2 separate regions of the Homo sapiens genome follow, and region 2 is linked to region 1. The links come from fine-mapping of genetic effects on gene expression. Tissue or cell type: whole blood. Region 1 holds a variant in brackets; the other region holds the start of a gene. All regions are shown on one strand. Distances are from middle to middle.

The links. PIP is the estimated chance that this variant, and not a neighbour inherited with it, causes the effect.
Region 2: it holds the start of TMED3, and the variant in region 1 is fine-mapped to the expression of TMED3 in whole blood (INTERVAL, PIP above 0.99).

Annotation. Positions count from the first base shown.
Region 1 is chr15:79,091,513-79,096,661 of GRCh38, forward strand. No RefSeq gene overlaps it. Among named protein-coding and RNA genes, the nearest start is that of RASGRF1, 3.3 kb to the left of the region's middle. The variant T/G (reference allele first, on the strand shown) is at 2,091.
Region 2 is chr15:79,309,133-79,314,281 of GRCh38, forward strand. It overlaps TMED3 (transmembrane p24 trafficking protein 3), which reads left to right and starts at 1,980. Exons shown (of 3, transcript NM_007364.4): 1 at 1,980-2,285; 2 at 4,625-4,873. The coding sequence starts at 2,118. RefSeq lists silencers at 1,824-1,873, 2,084-2,153.

The sequences.
Region 1 (5,149 bases):
AGGCGCCGGGGACCATGGGAGCCTTCAAATAGCTGCGCTGGCGCAATGATACCTTAATGATAGATTTTCCGTTCTTATTTTTAGCTCTCATTCGCCTACACAGTTACACGGCATTTATCCGAGAACGTCACAGCGCCCGCATGCTGCACCGGGAGGGCGCGCGGGCCGCCGGGCGAGCCGGGAGCTGGGGCGGGGAGCGCGCATCGCTGTCTGCCGCAGAGGGCAGCGAGCTCGCCCCGACCCGGAGCAAGCCGCGCCTGGCCCGGGCGCTTTGCAGCGGGGATGGGTGCCCGCGCAGCCCTGTGAAGGAAAGACACCATCTTTCCGCACGGAAACTGCGTATACCCCTCCCCCGACACACACACACACACACACACACACACACACACACACACACACCCCACACTCACACACAGCACACACCACACACGCACAGATACACACCACACACCACACACCCACACACCACACACACCACACACACACACCACACACACCACACACACACACCGCACACACCACACACAAACCATACACCACACACACCACACACGCACACACACACGCCACACACACCGCATACACAAACACCACACACCACACACACACACCATACACCACACACCAACACACCACACACACACCACACACCCAAACACCACACACACCAAACACACACCACACACCCTACACACACACCACTCCCCACACCCCCCCACACCCCACCACACACACGCCACACACACCACACACAGACACCACACACATGCCACACACCACACACACACCACACACACACCACACACCACACACACACCACACACATGCCACACACCACACACATACCACATGCCACATACACACCCCCCACACTCCCCCACACCCCCCGCCACACACACACACAACCCACACCATACAAACACCACACACTACACACAACACCCCCACACTCCCCACACCACACACCACACACCACACACACTACACACACCACACCCACATACCACACACACCCCTACACACCCCTACACACCACACACACCCACACCCACACATACACCACACACCAGACCACACACCACACATACCACACACACCATGCACACCACACCACACACACCACACCACACACACACCACATAACACACCCCTCCCACAGACCAAACCTGGGCTGCACACACACACGCATCACACCTCACACAACACATGCAGCACACCACACACACATACACACACACATACACACACACACCCTAGTTTGGAGCCCTAGGGAAGGGCTTGGAAACCAGGCAGCCCTGTGTAGGTCACGGAAGAATCCACAGAGAAGCTCTGCTGTGGAGGAATGGAGCTGCCCCTGTCCTGAGCACAGTGAGGCAGGCCTGTGTTCCTGGAGTGGGAGCATTTTGGGGGAGGAACTGGCCTTGTTAACCTTAGTCCTCCCTCTAGTGCCATCGTTCCAGTCCTAGGGACCCCAAGGACTCAGTGGTGCTGATTTTTCTTCACAAATAATGAAAATAGGCTAGATGGCTAAGCCTTTTCATTCAGTCTTAATTTTCCCTACACTATCACCATCTTTTCTTCTCATTTGCTCTCTTCATGGAAGCAGAGTTTGCAGGATTGAGGTTCTTAATCTGGCCTTTCTTTATCTAAACTCTTTTATTCGGAAGTCTGTTACAGAAGCCAAGAAAACTTCAGGGAAGGGGCACTGTTCTAAGTGCTTTAGATCAATTAAGCCATTGAATCGTCATGCAACCCAATGTAGTAAGTTTATTTTTTTCCCCAATGAGCTCCATTGTACAGACGGGGAAACTGATGCATGGGAGAGTTGAATGACTTGCTCAGGGCCGCTCAGCTAGGAAGCAGCGGAGGTTGGATTTGAACGGGGCAGTCTGTCCCAGAGGTCTTTGTAGAGCTAAGTGGGTGGTCCCTGGGTTGCAGGGAGGTTGGCTTTTATCCCAAGAGGGGGTACGATGGTCAAGAGAGGGTCTCCCAGGTAGGCTGGAGTCAAGGCTGAGCCTGCACAGAGGCTGCTGTGGCAGAGGGACTTATGGTACATAGGTTCTGAACCTGGGCTGCACATCAGAATCACC[T/G]GGGAGCACTTAACAAGCACTTCCCAGAGATCATGGGTGGGCTAGCTACACTTTCATGGGTAGTTGTAATGTGCAGTGAAGGTGGAGAACCGCTCATATACGGGAGAACTCATGATATGGTCACGTGCACATGAATCACCTGGGGATCTTGTGAAAATGCAGATTCTCTTTCAGTGGATCTGGGACAGGACCTGATAATCTGCATTTCTAACAAGTTCCCTGGTCATGAAAAGCTGCTGGTTTGCAGACCACACTTTGAAAGTTCTAGGGCACTCGAGAGGTGGGAGGCAATGGGATTCATTCATTCATTCACTCATTCACACACATTTCATTCCACTAGTGTTCATTTAGCCCTTCATCTGTGCCAGGCATGGGTGGGCCACTGGGGATACAGTGATAAACAAAATACAGTCCCTGTCTTACAAGGGATGCCCAAGCATGCCTTCTCTGTCTGACCCTTAGTGTAGCAGGAAGAAAACCATCTTCCCTTGGATCTGGGGGAAAGATTCCGATGAGAGGTGGCAGGCGGATTGCCTGAGCTCAGGAGTTCGAGATGAGCCTGGGCAACACGGTAAAACCCTGTCTCTACTAAAATACAAAAAAATTAGCCAGGTGTGGTGGCACACACCTGTAGTCCCAGCTACTCAGGAGGCTGAGGCAGGAGAGTTGCTTGAACCCGGAAGGCGGGGGTTGCAGTGAGCTGAGATCGCACCACTGCAGTCCAGCCTGGGTGACAGAGCGAGACTCTGTCTCCAAAAAAAAAAAAAAAAAAAAAAAAAAATGAACCCACTTCAGTGAGTCTCAGCCCTGGTGCACTTTGGAACCACCTGGAGATGTTTTAAAAATCTCTGTGCTCAGGCTGAACCCCAGGCCAATTAAGTCAGAAACTTTGAGGGTGGGCCCTGGGCATCTGTGCTTTTAAAAGCTCCCCAGATGATTCCAATGCACAGCTGGGGTTGAGAACCACTGGTCTAAAGCCTGGGCCAAGAACATCTGCTCTCCACTCCCTCCTTCCCCTTGCTGGCATTGGGGAGTCTGAGCCACCTCCTTTTGCTGGTCTTGGAGTTACAGGAATTCCTCGTGGGCCAGTCCATGCAGGAGGGCTGGGCTTGGCTTAAAACCTCTCTGTGAGAAAGAGGGGGGTGGCATCAGCCCTGGCGCTTTGATTACTCCCATCTGAGCTGTGTGCATATTGATTTCTCTCCAGTCCCCACAGCTGGAAACCGGAGAAGAGCTGATTGGCCCCTCTGTGGTCGTTTGCCTCAATACTAGTCAGAGCTCAGAGCCCCTGGAAGGTGCTTAAGTTAGCTGGCTAAGAAGACAACGTTTACCAGGCCGGCCCTAGCTTGGGCTGGGGTGGGGAATGCCAAGAAGGGGGTAGGCATTCCCTGCCATAGCTGGTGGAAGTGGGCACACCTAGCTCTCATGTGTGCTGTCCACTAGTCCTGAGGTCAACCCTCCCTCAAAGGTGGAGAGGATGTCTACAGGAGCACCGTAGGTGCATCTGGGCTTTGCCATGCTTCATTCCATTCTCCCAAGAAGGATTTGCATAAGGGTTAATAATCCCATTCACAGATGGGAAAACTGAGGCCCAGACAGTGGAAACAACATGCACAGAGTCTTACAGGGAGGAGCTGGGATGAGGTACTCTGACTGCTCGTCCAGGCCTCATCCCAGAAGAACTGGCTTCCTGGATTTCCCACCTCCCAGCCCTGTGGGCTGAGGTCTCTGTAGATAAAGAATCAAGAAGGAGAATTAAGGAATATTTTGGTGGGTTTGGTCTCTGCATTTAGAAATGGCTAGCTAATGACAGGGACATTGCCCAGTTCAAAATCCTGCTAAGTCTTCATGTGGGATTTTGATTAGACTTTGGACTGGAGCTCAACTTAAGCATTTGTTGAGATGGGTGTCCTGTGGGTCTGACTGGATGGGAGGTGCCCGCTAGTGAGGATTTCTAGTGTGTGTGTGTGTGTGTGTGTGTGTGTGTGTGTATGTGTGTGTGTGATGTGTGTTGTCTATTGCATGTGTGGAAGTTTCTGAGTGGTATGGTGTGTATGTGTGTGGGGCATGCAGCGTGTGTGTGGATGGAATATCTAGAGAACCTCTGCTTCCTTGGCAACATATTCCATAAGAAAAATGTAGTTTCCATGTCATTTAAAGAAATGAAGACTTAAGCACAAGGGGTCAGAAGCAGACTTGGAAATGGAGGCTTTGCCCTTGGGGATTTACTACTCCAACTTTGGGCTCAATTGGTCAGCTTTGCCCAGACATCCAACTGCGGACACCAGCGATTTACGCTTTTACTTTCTAGCCAATGAAAATAGCCATAGTATTCCGTTTGATTAAAATTACTGCAGGCTCTTTGTAAAAAACTTAGACAATATAGAAAATAAACAGATAATTTCTCCAATGATCACTTTTTTCTATACAATCCTCTTTTCCTAAGTAAATATATCTACCAAAGTGTGTTTCTGGAATACAGAAACTATGCTATGCTATTTTATGATCTCAATCTCTTGCTGTCTCTTTACTTAACAGTATGTGGGGACATTTTAAATATTACTACAGATTTAATTAATGGATTCTTTCTGATTGGGGATTTAGGTTGTTTTCAATTCATAGTTTTTGGAAATAATGCAATTAATATCTTTTTATATACACTTCGCTCTCTTAGGCTGAATTTCTGAAAGTTGCACTTCGGGGTTAAAATGATGCACATTTGCAACATTGGTTTGTGTTACTTGATTTTCAGAGAGCTTTTACTCCTTACATGGCTACCAGCAGTGGATGAAACAGTTCATTTCTCCATTGACTTGTCAATCCTGGATATTAATATTGCCAGTTTCTTAAATATTTGCCCATTTTGAAAGGGCAAAAAATGATATTCCTTCTTGTATTAATTTTAATTTCTTTTTAAAGTTGTGAGGTTAGACATTTTAACATGTTTACAGTCATTCACATTTGTTCTTTTTGAATTTTTGTTTTATATCTTTATTTTGGCAGTCGTGTTTATATTTTTCTTGTAGATTTATCACAGTGTTTTATATATTAGGGATATT
Region 2 (5,149 bases), 220 kb after region 1:
GCCTGCATGCTCTGACTAGAGCTTCTTCAATGTCAGCTCCTCCCCTGAACTTATGCAGGTGTTTTCTTGGAACTTAAATGTAAGACTTAACATTTAATCCGGAGGAATTTATTTTGATTTTTAGAGATGGGGTCTCCCTTTGTCATCCATGCTGGAGTGCAGTAGTGCAATCACAGTTCACTGTAGCCTCAGACACCTGGTGTCAAGCAATCCTCCCACCTCAGCATCCCAAGTAGCTGGGACTACAGACCCACACCACCATGCCTGGTTAATTTTTGTTTGTTTGTTTTTGTAGAAACGAGGTTTCACTATGTTGCCCAGGCTAGATTCGAACTCCTGGCTTCAAACAATCCTCCTGCCTCAGCCTCCCCAAATACTGGGATACAGGCATGAGCTATGGTGCCCAGCCCGAAATTTCTTTTTGTTAGTCTTAGCAGAGCACTCCACCTGTGCCAGGGCAATCGTGTTTTTTTTTTGTTTGTTTGTTTTGTTTTTTTGAGACGCAGTCTTGCTCTGTCGCCAGGTTGCAAACTCCACCTCCCAGGTTCAAGCAATACCCCTGCCTCCCTGCCTCAGCCTCCCGAGTAGCTGGGACTACAGGCACGCACCACCACCCCCAGCTAATTTTTGTATTTTTAGTCGAGAAGGGGTTTCACCACATTGGCCAGGATGATCTCGATCTCTTGACCTCGTGATCCACCCGCCTCAGCCTCCCAAAGTGCTGGGATTACAGGCGTGAGCCACCACTCCCGGCCAATTGTGGTTTTATATCTGTCATTTATTTCTCCACTTAGTTCATCTAGATCAGATGATTATTACTTCCATGTTTTCTATCAGTTCCTAAAAAAAAAAAAAACGTGAAATAGGACCGTGCCAGGGAAGGAAGCTTAAGGGACACTACTAAACACCTCTTCCATGCCTGTCACTGAGCCAGTCAATATTATTAACTATGTTATGCATGCATGTTATTTCCAAGCCTACAGATTGCTTTCACACATTAGCGTGTTCATCCATAGTGAATGTGGCCAGCGGAAATCTATATGGGCAGTAACATTCTTTCCTGAAGTCAAGATATACCACGTCTAGTAATGCTCTCCTGAATAAGTTATTTATTGAGTATCGACATCACAATCTACGTCTTTTCTCTTTGTTTATTGGATCACAGTGAATATAAAACTATACCTATAGTTACGATTATACAAAAGAATCTTAAGTCAGTGGTCATGGGTAAGACAGTAAACCAATTTATCTGCTTTCAGAGCTTTTAAGAAGTCAAAGTGCAAAAATGACAGTTTTGTGCAAAAAGAATTTTCAACGAGCCTGACAGCCAAAATATACCTGAAGTCGCTGCGAGACTTTACTTGGATTTTCATGAGATCGTTTGTGTGTGAGCACGCTCGTGTTTTTCCCAGAGCAGGTGTAATGATGGGTCTTTACTTACTCTCCCCACTCCCCACCCCCTTCGCACACTCTTTCACCTTGGGAAGGGTATGGGAATGAAGAAAGGAGTGTTAATCGGGTTCCCAGCGTTCCCTTATCTTTCACCTAGCTCCCTAACTACTGTGGATGTTAGGTTTGGGCACACCCATTTCAAGACAAGGAGACTGGTTCTCGAGGGAAGTGTGAGACTGAAGTTACAGAGCCTGTCAAAAGCGGAGCCTTATAGAGGGAGTAAAATCCCACGTGCTTCGTGCTGCAGCAGCTGGAGGGTGGACCTGGGTCGACCTGGGGGGATGCTCAGCCCTGCGGGTCCGGGAGCGCGCAGAACAGCGGGGAGGGCTTCTCCCTCTTCTGGGTAGGGGCGCGCTAGGTGGAGCCCCACCTCCCCTCCGCGGAGACCCACCCTCCGAGCCGGGAGAGGCGTTGCGGGGGGGTGGGGGGGGCGTGTCCCCTGGCGCAGCGCGGCCAGCGCGCACGCGCAGCGGGCGGAAGGTGCCCGGGCCCACTTTGAGCGCGCGGCTGCGCACTGAGCCGCCGGCCCTCCCGGAAGCGCAGAGCTCCGCTGGTGCCACGTCTATCCCCTTACATCCTCCTAGGACCCGGTCGGTAGTCGTCGCCCCAGCCCGCCGGGGGCGCAGCGCCCGAGCCGCGGCCCTCGAGACGGGACCGAGAGCATCATGGGCAGCACTGTCCCGCGCTCCGCCTCCGTGCTGCTTCTGCTGCTGCTCCTGCGCCGGGCCGAGCAGCCCTGCGGGGCCGAGCTCACCTTCGAGCTGCCGGACAACGCCAAGCAGTGCTTCCACGAGGAGGTGGAGCAGGGCGTGAAGTTCTCCCTGGATTACCAGGTGAGGCCGGGCGCCCGGCAGCGCTCCCTTCTCCCTCCACTCCCAGGTCTCACCTGGACACTGGCTAGCCCCTGACTGGAGGCGCTCGAATTAGCCACAGGCTACAGGGAGGCTGCATGGGGTGGGAGTCCCCGGAGACCAGTTGACTTCCCCGTGAGGAGGAAGGTTTGGGTCATCAGGGCCCACCCGAGACGAGCCTGGCCAGCGAGGAGGTAGTCAGCGCCGCAGGTGCGAGCCCGGGATGGGGACGCCAGGGCGGATCCCGCAGCCTGGGGAGCTGGCCAAAGAGATATCCGCAGGCCCCCGAGACACTAACCAACGGCAGTTCTGATCGGCTGGACACAGGCTCTCTAACCCCAGTCTCTTAGACCACCTTGTGCCTTCGAGTACTGAAAAATGGCAGCAAGAGGAAGTGGGCTCATAGTTTTAGTTTATTCCTCCCCTCTCCAGCGTTTAAAGTTGGAGTGAGGTGAGGGCAGCAGAAGTGAGAATGGGCACTTTGGAAAGGAGGGATCAGTGCAGCCATTGAGGCCTGGCGGTGTTTACAAGGAGCGGTGTGGCTGCAAGACTTGGCTCTTGCCATATGGCTTAGAAAAGCTCAGTTCCTGTATTCCTGTCTCCTTTGAGAGATCCCGTGGCCCACAGGTGACAGGAGCAGGTCTTGAGTGAGTAGTCTGCCCCGATATTTAGTGAGCAGGTCTAGGGTTGGGGGCCAAGTGGGCATCATACTCAGACAGCTATCTGCTTGTGGACGCATGCTGATAGGCACTTCAGAAATGAGGGGCCACGGGCAGCAGGAATGGGGGCAAGCTATTTGACCAGTTCCTCTGTGGTTAGAGGCACTGAAGGAAGCTTGCGCTTGGAGACAACTTCTATGTGGTAGTCTCAGTCACTGATTTGTCCACTTTCAGGTCTTTGTGGACAACATGCAAATTGTGACTGGGTTAACATGGGCAACCTAGGTGCAATGACAAAAAGAATGATAATTCTGTGGTTGCAGGGACCTCAGATGTCATCTGGTCACTGCCAGGGCGGAAATCCCTTGTCAAAGTGTGTCCAGCCTGGGTTTAAACACACTTAGCAACAGGATACTCACTGCTTTTTGCAAAGCTTGCTGAGCAGGACTAGTAACTTTTGTCCGGACAAAGAGGCCATTTAAATTTGGAAGCAGATGGAGGCCATTGACCGTGTCCTTTGATGGATCTTGGTTATAGCCATTGCCTACCTGTGAGATTTTGCTTTATGTGGGTCTTATTTTTCTTATGTTACAAGGAGAGTTTGAACTAAATGATTCCCAAAGACTCTTCCACCGCTGACACTCAGAAATTCCATGAATACTTCGATCAATATTTTTCTTCTCCTTGCATTCAGTCATTAATAATATATTGTTAATAGCTACTTGACCCATTCAGCAAGCCAAGAATGACCCTTGCTGGTGGGGGGAGGGGGAACACCTGTCTGTTATTGGAACGGAGAAGCAGGAGGTGCAGCATGCATGCTCTAGGGTGGCCCCCAAATCAGATCCCACATCTCCACTGCAACCCCAGGGGGTTAGTTTGCAGTCTGACGATTGTCCAGTAATTGGCTGGCACTTTTGGGGCCCTTGCTAAATTTATGTTGGACACCGTGCTAAACACTTTAGGTGTGATAACTTATTGACTCCTCACTTCATGGATAAAGACATATCCTCAGAGAATAAAGTAACTTGTCTAGGGTCACATGGCTAATGAGTGGCAGTGCCCTAAATCAGTGATTTGCTGTGTGTCTTGTGTTAAGTATTGAACAAAGATAAAGAATCGGTGGCATCTAGTTGCATTGGAATAGTTTCTTGGACATCCCTCCTCATCTTGCTCTTGATTTCGGGAAGCTTTATCAGCACCATCTCAGGAAGAGCAGTTATCCTGGGGTATGTTCATTCATGCTTCAGAATAGTGCAATAGGTAAATGTTTAGGCACTGGAACCAAAAGCTCTCAAGGCAGATCTCATCTCACCACTTTCTCTTGTGTAACCTTAGGGAATTTACTTAACCTTGGAACCTCAGTTTCTTCTTCTGTAAAATGGAAAGGATTAGGCTCATTGAAACCCTGCAGAGCAAACTTGGGAGTCAGGCAGGCATAGATTCAAATCTTAGCCCTTTCACTTTCAAGCAGTGTGACCACAGCCAATTTATTTAACCTTGCTCAGCCTTAGTAAAATGAGAAGTGGCGTAGCACCTGCCTTAGAAAGTTTTGAAGATGAAGTGACAGAAATGTTTGTAGAGTCTGATCACAGTGTCTGGTTGGCATTTGGTAAGTGGTGGTTGCTCCTTTGATAACAGCAATTTTTTTATGGTTGTCAGGTCATCACTGGAGGCCACTACGATGTTGACTGCTATGTAGAGGACCCCCAGGGGAACACCATCTACAGAGAAACGAAGAAGCAGTACGACAGCTTCACGTACCGGGCTGAAGTCAAGGGCGTTTATCAGTTTTGCTTCAGTAATGAGTTTTCCACCTTCTCTCACAAGACCGTCTACTTTGACTTTCAAGTGGGCGATGAGCCTCCCATTCTCCCAGACATGGGGAACAGGGTCACAGCTCTCACCCAGGTGAGTGAACATTAGCAGTTCGGGGCTGCTGAACCCCCTAGCGTGTTCCTCTTCATTGGCCTCTGTCTAGGCTGGTGGTGGGAGTCATCATCCATCCAGCTCCCAGTCTGGAAGTCTCAGGGTTGGTTTTGTCTCTTTCTTCATACCTAGTCCTAAAGGATGCCATGCTCTTCTTTCGATCTTCCTTTCCACTCTCTAACCAGGTCCCTGCAGTACTTTCCTCTGACATTCCTGTCTCTACTCTTTCATTCCCACTCAGTCTTTTGCACAGTACCA